Linked DNA regions of Homo sapiens. The protein of the gene in region 1 purifies or fractionates together with the protein of each later gene. This does not show direct contact. Each region holds a gene or a part of one and is shown in the gene's direction. Other genes may lie near its edges. The genes, in order: ASIC5, SHCBP1 and USP33.

Evidence for each region.
Region 2: the proteins of ASIC5 (region 1) and SHCBP1 purify together in Homo sapiens (affinity purification with mass spectrometry; one large-scale study listed by BioGRID and IntAct). This does not show direct contact.
Region 3: the proteins of ASIC5 (region 1) and USP33 purify together in Homo sapiens (affinity purification with mass spectrometry; one large-scale study listed by BioGRID and IntAct). This does not show direct contact.

What each region holds. Positions count from the first base shown.
Region 1 is NC_000004.12:155,863,352-155,867,617, reverse strand, and holds the start of ASIC5 (bile acid-sensitive ion channel), read left to right. Parts: upstream 1-1,340; 5' UTR 1,341-1,391; coding exon 1,392-1,431; exon of another isoform or gene 1,432-3,863; coding exon 3,864-4,170; exon of another isoform or gene 4,171-4,266. UniProt on the Homo sapiens protein: Forms bile acid-gated sodium channels and may play a role in bile acid-dependent absorption and secretion by epithelial cells of the bile ducts. Displays high selectivity for sodium ions but can also permit the permeation of other cations.
Region 2 is NC_000016.10:46,586,749-46,590,401, reverse strand, and holds part of SHCBP1 (SHC SH2 domain-binding protein 1), read left to right. Parts: intron 1-3,596; coding exon of another isoform or gene 3,597-3,644; exon of another isoform or gene 3,645-3,653. UniProt on the Homo sapiens protein: May play a role in signaling pathways governing cellular proliferation, cell growth and differentiation. May be a component of a novel signaling pathway downstream of Shc. Acts as a positive regulator of FGF signaling in neural progenitor cells.
Region 3 is NC_000001.11:77,749,700-77,753,352, reverse strand, and holds part of USP33 (ubiquitin carboxyl-terminal hydrolase 33), read left to right. Parts: intron 1-3,653. UniProt on the Homo sapiens protein: Deubiquitinating enzyme involved in various processes such as centrosome duplication, cellular migration and beta-2 adrenergic receptor/ADRB2 recycling.

The sequences.
Region 1 (4,266 bases):
TTGGCAGGGGCTAGGGGCAGAATGAAATGATTTGACTGTGTCCCCACCCAAATCTCATCTTTAATTATAGCTTCCATAATTCCCATGTTCTGTGGGAGGGACCCTGTGAGAGTTAATTGAATCATGGAGGCGGGTCTTTCCCATGCTGTTCTCATGAGAGTGAAACAGTCTCAAGAGATCTGATAGTTTTATGAAGGGAAGTTCCCCTACACAAACTCTCTTGCCTGCCTCCATGTTAGATGTAACTTTGCTCCTCTTTCACCTTCCACCATGATTGCGTGGTCTTCCCAGCTATGTGAAACTGTGAGTCAATTAAACCTCTTTCTAAATTACCCAGTCTTGAATATGTCTTTATCAGCAGTGTGAGAACAGAATAATACATAATTTAACCCTAAAGAAGAGCTCTTTAATGGAGAAATTCATATATCATGAAATTTATCCTATTCCTGAAATCTTTACTGTGATAACTGAGGACCTCTAGCCAGATTCCTTACTTACATCACTTGGAATTAGTTTGCCTCCGTATAAGACTAGTTTGAACTTATAGTGCTGAGTTTACAAGTTTCCAAATATATGCAAAATATACGTAATCATACTGATGATTAATGGTGAGATGCTTATAAAATGGTGAGTCTAACAAGCTCTATTAGGTACAGATACATGCAATCACTGAATTCTGTCAAGAGATGATGCCCTTTATGCACAATAATGCACATTCTTCCATTTATTATTCAATATAATAAATTCTAACAATTTTCCAAAAGTGTTCATATAAAAAATAATCAGACTTTATGTTTTAGTAAGTTGTTTGTTTTCAGTAATCATTTATTCTTGAGCAGATATTTTTTGGTGTTTTATTTTGTCATGTTTATTGGCTATTATTTCTGTTAGAAACAGCTTCTGTTACTAAGAAAGAAACACCGACAAGGGAAGACACCTTTCCCATAAAAAAAAATTTATTCCAGCTGCGTTTTGATTTGAAGTTGAATAAAGACAAAGGTAAAAAGAAAAGCTAAGAAGACGTTCCCGGGTGAGTCATTGGAGTGTCAACTAGCCTGGTCAGGGGCTGCTGCTTAACTACACATATTTGATAGGAAGTGTCCCTTTAACTGTGAGAAAATGGTTTCCTAATGATACTTTTTGCTTTTCACTCATGAAATCACTCTGGGTTAGCTTCTCATCAGTCCATAAATGCCCATACCTGGTTCTGTCAACATTTTTGGTTTTCAGATTATGTGCTTTATGAGGCAAAACATAGCAACACAAACATTTAAATTGCTTCCATGTTTTACAACCTCAACTGCTGTATTTTATATAAAGGGCACAAAATGAATACTGTTATTGATGAAAATTGGGTTACCCTGAGGACTCTTGCTTAACTGAAATCACAAATGGAGCAGACAGAAAAATCAAAAGTATATGCTGAGAACGGTGAGTAAAGAGTGAACTCCTCAGAGCAGTAATATTTTTCATTTCTAGAGGCCAGAAGTAAGAAAAGAGAGATTTTTTTTCTTCATTTGGGAAATTTGATTTCCAATGTTACTTGAACACAATATAAGTAATATAAGTTTTAAAAATGAATAGTTTTACTTAGAAAAAAAGTTATTTGTATGAGGGACTCAAAAATAGTTTTAAAATATTACTATATGCCAGAATCTGATTTTGTTTCTTTGTTTTGTTTTATTTCTTTTGGTTTCTATTTATCCTGGGCCTGCAGGTTTTATTTTTTAAATGTAACAAAGCTGATTTGATGTTCCTCAAAATGCTTCTATGTTGATCAGCACTCAATGCAAGGTCTAGTTGTCATAATGACACTGTATATACTCCAGTCAGGAGAGTAAGAAGTTTCTGCTTTGCAAACTAGTGGGCCATTTATTCAACCAATTTTAATCTTCCTGACAGTCATACATTTACCTAAAACAATAATAAAAAAAACTCTATTAAAACACTAGAAAATAGTTGGTATTACTCCAGAAAGGCCAAACCAATTGTCAAGGATTAGATGTATATTAAATGGGCTGATTTTTGACAGGCAAACTTGAAAGTTAAATGTTTTGGGGTAATGCTTGCAACTAGCCACACTTTGCTTGTCAGTAACTAGTTACTACATTAGTCTTCCCCTTCTAATAGTTTTGATCCCTATTCTAGGAATGGTACAAGTTATCCAGAGACTGAGTTGTTCTTTTATCAGAGTAAATTCTTCGCATATGTTTGCAAGTCATGACTAAAGAATACACAAAAGAGCATATTTAAATATATTTTGCTAATTAGTAACAATAACTTTTTTCTTGTTTCTGATTTTTCTCTGGGATTATGCCAGTTACTTGATACATGTTCATTAATTTTATACTAAAAACAACATTAATAACGGTGCTATTCTAAGATTTTAGTCCAACTTCAAGCTAATCATATTAATACAAGCTATCCTGCTTAGTGAATAATAATCATAATATAATTTGTAAAATAATAATAATATAATTTGTAAGTGAATGAAATGGACTCCCTTAGAAAATGTTAATAGACACCTTTTTATAGCATATGTCCTATAACTGAATAAAAAGCTTAGCTAATTGATTGGTTATTTATGTTGTATTAAATAATGATTTAATAGTAAATGAAGCTTGAAACATCTTGTAAGTAAATTAATGCTGGATAGTTGAATACCTATATTCCAAAAGTATTATTTTGGCAAAGGATATAAAAGTTAATTCACCTAATTATGAACATATATAAAGCCATTAAGAACTAATTTTTTAAGATACTTTTAAAGCTTTTTAAAATTCCTGAATATTTTACTATTTACCACATCACCACTACATTAGCAGAATAATAAAAATAGCTAATACCCTTGAGTACTTATTATGATCTAGATAATGTGCTAAGCTCTCTCCAGGTATTATCAACAAATTTAATACAACAAATTCATAAGGCAGATACCATTGCTGCCATTTGACAGAAAAGGTATAAGACTAAGAAACTTGGCTAAAGTTGTGCAGGTTATAAGAGGCGAGGAATGGACCGGAAGCCTGATCTTCCATTGTGAAGCCCATCTCATGCTCTTAACTATATTGAACCTTTCCCTCCACAAAGGGATTCATTGCCTCTTCTCCTATGAACAAATGGAAAGAAATTTAACCAAAATAAAATTGTCAACATATCATATATTGCCAAAAAAATTTAGTGTTACCTTCCCTGGTTCTTACCAATGAATATCAATAAATATTATTGATTGATTCCTGATAGACTTGAAATGATGAATTAATTCCATGAAGAGGTAGAAAATAGATTACTTAACTAATACTACAACTGAACACTGAACATTCTGACTAAACAACCAACAAAATATAAAATAGTTGTACATTAAAGAATACGAGAATGAAAGTTACATTTACCATAAATTATACCACCATAGGACAAACATTAGTTAAGAACAGATTACTTTTAGCCATACTTAGGACTGTCAGAGGAATCAGCCTCATTTTGTTCATGACTTCTAAAGGACTTTCAGAGAGAAAGAGCATTTTAAAAATAAGAGTTAATATTTAAAGTTTATGAATTGTTGTAACCAACTTGGTTTTAAAGCTGGAAGTCACCTATTAATACCATACCACTAACACATTTACATTAATAATAGCCGTTCTATGAATAGCATTAGCATCTTCTCAATAAACCCATGTAGCCAACACTTACACTTCTTGATTCCTGAATAAATCATGCAACAAAAGATGAATTTTTAGTTTCTATGAATTACAAGTAAAAAGAGTCACCTCTTTAAATTATGTGAGTTGTGTTTTTTTACGGATAGCATTAAGGTTTCCTAATTACTTTTTTTTGTTTAATCATTTTATGGGCAAAACCTTAAGGACTCTTAGAAAAGATAAAGCTTTGCCTTTCAAAGAAACCACTGCCATCTCCCACTGAGCGAAAGAAGTTTGACCATGACTTTGCCATCTCCACTTCCTTTCATGGGATACACAATATTGTTCAGAACCGGAGCAAAATTCGCAGGGTGCTCTGGTTGGTGGTGGTTCTGGGCTCAGTCTCACTTGTGACATGGCAGATCTACATTCGCTTGCTCAACTACTTCACATGGCCAACCACAACGTCCATTGAGGTTCAATATGTGGAAAAGATGGAGTTCCCAGCTGTGACATTTTGTAATTTGAACAGGTAAAAATTACTTTTTTAAAAATAATTAGTTCCTATAAATTTGCTAGTATAATCTTTCTTGGATGACTGACAAAGAGTTTTCTCATGTGGAACTTA
Region 2 (3,653 bases), on another chromosome or scaffold:
AATTTTCTTGCATTCTGTAGGTTGCCTGTTCACTCTGATGGTAGTTTGTTCTGCTGTGCAGAAGCTCTTTAGTTTAACTAGATCCCATTTGTCAATTTTGGCTTTTGTTGCCATTGCTTTTGGTGTTTTAGTCATGAAGTCCTGCCATGCGTATGTCCTGAATGGTATTGCCTAGATTTTCTTCTAGGGTTTTAATGGTTTTAGGTCTAACATTTAAGTCTTTAATCCATCTTGAATTAATTTTTGTAAGGTGTAAGGAAGGGATCCAGTTTCAGCTTTCTACATATGACTAGCCAGTTTTCCCAGCACCATTTATTAAATAGGGAATCCTTTCCCCATTTCTTGTTTTTGTCAGGTTTGTCAAAGATCAGATGGTTGTAGATGTGTGGTATTATTTCTGAGGGCTCTGTTCTGTTCCATTGGTCTATATCTCTGTTTTGGTACCAGTACCATGCTGTTTTGGTTACTGTAGTCTTGTAGTATAGTTTGAAGTCAGGTAGCGTGATGCCTCCAGCTTTGTTCTTTTGGCTTAGGATTGTCTTGGCGATGTGGGCTCTTTTTTGGTTCCATATGAACTTTAAAGTAGTTTTTCCAATTCTGTGAAGAAAGTCCTTGGTAGCTTGATGGGGATGGCATTGAATCTATAAATTACCTTGGGCAGTATGGCCATTTTCATGATATTGATTCTTCCTATCCATGAGCATGGAATGTTCTTCCATTTGTGTCCTCTTTTATTTCATTGAGCAGTGGTTTGTAGTTCTCCTTGAAGAGGTCCTTCACATCCCTTATAAGTTGGATTCCTAAGTATTTTATTCTCTTTGAAGCAATTTTGAATGGGAGTTCACTTATGATTTGACTCTCTGTTTATCTGTTATTGGTGTATAGGAATGCTTGTGATTTTTGCACATTGATTTTGTATCCTGAGACTTTGCTGAAGTTGCTTATCAGCTTAAGGAGATATTGGGCTGAGACGATGGGGTTTTCTAGATATGCAATCATGTCATCTGCAAACAGGGACAATTTGACTTCCTCTTTTCCTAATTCAATACCCTTTATTTCTTTCTCCTGCCTGATTGCCCTGGCCAGAACTTCCAACACTATGTTGAATAGGAGTGGTGAGAGAGGGCATCCCTGTCTTGTGTGACAGTTTTCAAAGGGAATGCTTCCAGTTTTTGCCCATTGATTATGATATTGGCTGTGGGTTTGTCATAAACAGCTCTTATTATTTTGAGATACATCCCATCAATACCTAGTTTATTGAGAGTTTTTAGCATGAGACGCTGTTGAATTTTGTTGAAGGCCTTTTCTGCATCTATTGAGATAATCATGTGGTTTTTGTCTTTGGTTCTGTTTATATGATGGATTACGTTTATTGATTTGCATATGTTGAACCAGCCTTGCATCCCAGGGATGAAGCCAACTTGATCATGGTGGATAAGCTTTTTGATGTGCTGCTGGATTCGGTTTGCCAGTATTTTATTGAGGATTTTTGCATCGATGTTCATCAGGCATATTGGTCTAAATTCTCTTTTTTTGTTGTGTCTCTGCCAGGCTTTGGTATCAGGATGATGCTGGCCTCATAAAATGAGTTAGGGAGGATTCCCTCTTTTTCTATTGATTGGAATAGTTTCAGAAGGAATGGTACCAGCTCCTCTTTGTACCTCTGGTAGAATTCGGCTGTGAATCCGTCTGGTCCTAGACTTTTTTTGATTGGTAGGCTATTAAATATTGCCTCAATTTCCGAACCTGTTACTGGTCTATTCAGAGATTCAACTTCTTCCTGGTTTAGTCTTGGGAGGGTGTATGTGTTGAGGAATTTATCCATTTCTTCTAGATTTTCTAGTTTATTTGCATAGAGGTGTTTATAGTGTTCTCTGATGGTAGTTTGTATTTCTGTGGGATTGGTGGTGATATCCCCTTTATTAGTTTTTATTGCATCTATTTGATTCTTCTCTCTTTTTTCTTCTTTATTAGTCTTGCTAGTGGTCTGTCAATTTTGTTAATCTTTTCAGAAAACCAACTCCTGGATTCATTGATTTTTTGAAGGGTTTTTTGTGTCTCTATTTCCTTCAGTTCTTCTCTGATCTTAGTGATTTCTTGCCTTCTGCTAGCTTTGGAATGTGCTTTCTCTTGCTTCTCTAGTTCTTTTAATTGTGATGTTAGGGTGTCAATTTTAGATCTTTCCTGCTTTCTCTTGTGGGCATTTAGTGCTATAAATTTCCTTCTACACACTGCTTTAAATGTGTCCCAGAGATTCTGGTATGTTGTGTCTTTGTTCTCGTTGGTTTCAAAGAACATCTTTGTTTGTGCCTTCATTTCGTTATGTACCCAGTTGTCATTCAGGAGCAGGTTGTTCAGTGTCCATGTAGTGGAGCAGTTTTGTTTTGAGTGAGTTTCTTAATCCTCAGTTCTAGTTTGATTGCACTGTGGTCTGAGAGACAGTTTGTTATAATTTCTGTTCTTTTATATTTGCTGAGGAGTGCTTTACTTCCAACTATGTGGTCAATTTTGGAATAAGTGTGATGTGGTGCTGTGAAGAATGTATATTTTGTTGATTTGGGGTGGAGAGTTCTGTAGATGTCTATTAGGTCCGCTTGGTGCAGAGCTGAGTTCAATTCCTGGGTATCCTTGTTAACTTTCTGTCTTGTTGATCTGTCTAATGTTGACAGTGGGGTGTTAAAGTCTCCCATTATTATTGTGTGGGAGTCTAAGTCTCTTTGTAGGTCTCTAAGGGCATGCTTTATGAATCCGGTGCTCCTGTATTGGGTGCATATATATTTAGGATAGTTATATGCACCCATATATATTTAGGATAGTTAGCTCTTGTTGAATAGTCTTTTTCTATTGTTTTAATTTCAACTTGCCTATATTCTGTTTGAAGTGAGTTGTAGACAGCATATAGTTGAGTCATGTTTTTAATCCACTTTGGCAATCTTTGTCTTTTAATTGTATTTAGACCACTTACATTTAATTATTGATATTAAATCTTTAGTTTATTTCGTGTTTTCTGTTTGTTATGCTTTTCATTTCTTGATTTGCTTTTTTTCTGCCATCCTGTGGATAGCTGAACATTTTTCAGAATTTCATTTGTTTTTGAGAATATCTCTTCATATAACTTTTTTAGTGGTCGCCCTAGGTTGTATATTATATGTACATAACAGTTTACTGGTGTCACCAGTTCAAGTAAAGTATAGAAACCTTGCCTCCTTTTATTATTCTCTACCATCTCCTTTTTATAATTGTCTTAAACATTTGCCTTATGTACGTACATCTAGAACCATATTAGAGAATTTTATGATTTTTGTTTCAAATGTCAAACATAATTTAGAACACTCAAGAGAAGGAAAGCTTATTGTATTTACCTATATCTTTGCTTACTGTGTTCTTTTTTTTTCTTTTTGATGTTCCAGGATCTTCTCTTTTATCATTTCTTTTTTGTTTAGATAACTTCCTTTAGTCATTCTATGAAGATACGTCTGCTGGTGACAAATTTTCCTATTTTTCCTTCTTCTTAGAATATCTTGATTTCCTCCTCATTCCTGAAGAATATTTTCACTGGTTATAGGATTCTGGGTTGACAATTTTTTTTCTTTTAGCCCTTGAACAATACTGTGTGTCTTTCATCTGACGTCCATGGTTTCTGATGCTGTCAA
Region 3 (3,653 bases), on another chromosome or scaffold:
GCCTCCCAGAGTGCTGGGATTACAGGTGTGAGCCACCATACCCAGCAAGACTGGTTACTCTTTTTATTCTGAAACCTTGAAACCTAGTGTTCTGTTGATTAATTGAGTAGGAATTGCTACTTCTTCAAGGGTCTAGAATCCAAATACCTGACCCCCTTTTTTGGTCTCAGTTTATATGGTTGATTCTTTGAATCCCAATGTCGAATATCACATCCATCATTATTAAATTTCGTCCTGTTAATTTTAGCTAATTTTTTTTATTTTTTATTTTTTGAGATGGAGTTTTGCTCTTGTCACCCAGACTGGAGTGCAGTGGCATGATCTTGGCTCACTTCGACCTCCTCTTCGCGGGTTCCAGCAATTCCCATGCCTCAGCCTCCCAGCTAGCTAGGACTACAGACGCACACCACCACGCCCTGCTAATTTTTTGTGTTTTTAGTAGAGACAGGGTTTCACCATGTTGGCTAGGCTGGTAATGAACTCCTGACCTCAGGTGATCCACCGGCCTCGGCCTCGCAAAGTGCTGGGATTACAGGTGTGAGCCACCACGCCCAGCCAATTTTAGCTTATTTTAAAAAATAGTTTAATTTTTCTTTAAAAACTTATTTTTATAATTTTAAGTTTATATTTTACTAGCCTGCCTTCTGTAGCTTTATCCAGGTTATTGTTAAAAATATTGAGCAGTTCTGACACCTGCTAGTGAAGACCTCCTGCATTCATATTAATCTTATATGTAACTATTAAATAGCTACCAATCCTTCTGACATAATTTTTTTTCTCTGTAATGTGAATCTGACTTTTTATGAAGAGCTTTACTTTTTGGAATAGACTAGGCAATGGAATTCAGGCAGTTTCTCAATATTAAAAGCTCCTTAGGTTACCAACTATGTCCTGATGTGTAATTATTATATTAAGGCCAGGCGCAGTGGCTCACTCCTGTAATCCCAGCACTTTGGGAGGCCGAGGTGGGTGGATCACTTGAGGCCAGAAGTTTGAGACCAGTCTGGGTAACACGGTGAAACTCCGTCTCTACTAAAAATACAAAAATTTAGCTGGATGTGGTGACACATGCTTGTAATCCCAGCTACTCAAGTGACTGAGGCATGAGAATTGCTTGAACCTGGGAGGGAGAAGTTGCAAGTGAGCCGAGATTGCGCCACTGCACTCCAGCCTGGGCGACAGAGTGAAATTCTGTCTCAAAAAAAAAAAAAATTGTACTAATAACATGGTTCCCTATACTTTTCCTAATATTAAAATTTGAATAGCTGATTGATTATCTTCTATTAGGATAAGGGGTCAGAATTTCAACCTGGAATTTGGAGATTGTACTACGAAAATATTCTCCCCTTAAAAGTAATATCTTCGGGCGCGGCGCGGTGGCTCAAGCCTGTAATCCCAGCACTTTGGGAGGCCGAGGTGGGCGGATCACGAGGTCAAGAGATCGAGACCATCCTGGCTAACACAGTGAAACCCCATCTCTACTGGAAATACAAAAAATTAGCTGGGTGTGATGGCGGGTGCCTGTAGTCCCAGCTACTCAGGAGGCTGAGGCAGGAGAATGGCGTGAACCCGGGAGGTGGAGCTTGCAGTGAGCTGAGATCGCGCCACTGCACTCAAGCCTGGGCGACAGAGCAAGACTCCGTCTCAAAAAAAAAAAGGTAATATCTTCAGAAGCAGTTTTGTTTTGTTTTTGAGACAAGGCCTAGCTCTGTCACTCAGGCGGGAGTGCAGTGGTGCAATCACAGCTCACTGCATGCAACTTCTGCCTCCTGGGCTCAGGTGATCCTCCCACCTCAGCCTCCTGAATAGCTGGGACTGCAGGGGCATGCCACCAGGCCTGGGTAATTTTTGTATTTTTTTGGGGTAGAGACAGGGTATTGCCGTGTTGCCCAGGCTGGTCTTGAACTCCTGGGTTCAAGCAGTCCTCCCGCCTCAGTCTCCTAAAGTGCTGGGATTACAGGTGCGAGCCACCATGCCCAGCCCAGAAGCAGTTTTGCATTTACTTTAATGCAGATGAGCAATTTAGCCACCGGAGCTGTACATCATAGAGCGTGAGTGCAGTCGTTTTCATCTGGAAAAATTTTCAGTTGGTGTTGCTGCCATCATTATTGGTGAGAAAACTTCCAGTAGTCCAGTTAGTGTGGCAGATAGAGGAAAAAGCTGCCAGATACAAGATTACAAAGATAAGGACAAACAGATAAAATCTTGTGCACTCTTTGTGATTTCCAACTTGTAAGTCACAAGCTTCTACAGGAGTCTTAGTTTTGCAAAATCTACTTCTGTGGATTGGACAATAGCATTTCCATATACAACCATTTTCTGTTTTTTTCTAATGTCTAATACTCATCTCCTGTGATTAAATTATCAGACAAGAATGGAAGCATACATGCCTTCTTTCTTTTGGTGTACAATTTGAGAAGAAATTGAAGTAGCTAAGAACTCCCATTGTCTTACCCTACTATATCTGAATGCCCTACCCTCAATAAACATTTGTCAAATAAAGGAATAAAAGAATGATTTTATTACCTTAGTAAATAAACTGAGTAAAACTAGGCAAAGAAAATACTAAGGGTTTTCTATTTTGATAGCATTGTATTATACGGGATACTAAATATCCTTGGGACAAATTGTTAGCCTTTGTTTACATGCACTAATTCTTTTCCTTTTTCTTTCTTTCTTTCTTTCTTTCTTTCTTTCTTTCTTTCTTTCTTTCTTTCTTTCTTTCTTTTTTAAGTCAGGGTCTTGCTGTGTTGCACAGGCTGGAGTGCAGTGGTGCAATCTTGGCTCACTGCAACCTTTGCCTCCTGGGCTCAAGGGATTCTCCTGCCTCAGTGGAACTACAGGTGTGCACCACCACGCTGGGCTGATTTTTCTATTTTCTGTAGAGAGATGGGGTTTCACCATGTTGCCCAGGCTGGTCTTGAACTCGTCAGCTCAAATGATCTTCCCGCCTTGGCCTCCCAAAGTGCTGGGATTACAGACCTGAGCTGTCATGCGTGGCTGCCCAGCCAATTCTTTCTTTCTTTCTTTTTTTGGAGATGGAGCCTTGCTCTGTTGCCCAGGCTGGTGTGCAGTGGCGTGATCACGGCTCACTGCAACCTCTGCCTCCTGGGTTCAAGTGATTCTCCTGCTTCAGCCTCCCGAGTAGCTGGGATTACAGGCACCCACCACTATGCACGGCTAATTTTTGTATTTTTAGTAAAGAAGGGGTTTTGCCATGTTGGCCAGGCTGGTCTCAGACTCCTGAACTCAGGTGATCCACCTACTTCGGCCTCCCAAAATTCTGGAATTACAGTCATCGCACCTGGCCCTGCCCAGCCAATTCTTATTAAATTGTTTAGATAATGCAAAATTAATAGCAGAGCAGAGAGAATGTATTTATGTTTTATTCTTTTTTTCATCTCAGCTATCAGCAGAGAGAATTTATTTTAATCTTATTTTTTGCTTGAGATTTTAGAAAAAAATATTTATCTTGGAAGTTTCTTTTCAATCCTCTGATCCCATTTCTTTCCTCTGAGGCAAAATAGTATTGCCTAAAAAGCAGTGAGAAGAACATCTACATTTCATTGGCAAATGCAGAATTTTTACTTTAGAGGAAAATACATAGCTTAAATACTTTCAGTAAACAAAGCGCTCAGTACTCATCTTTAGGG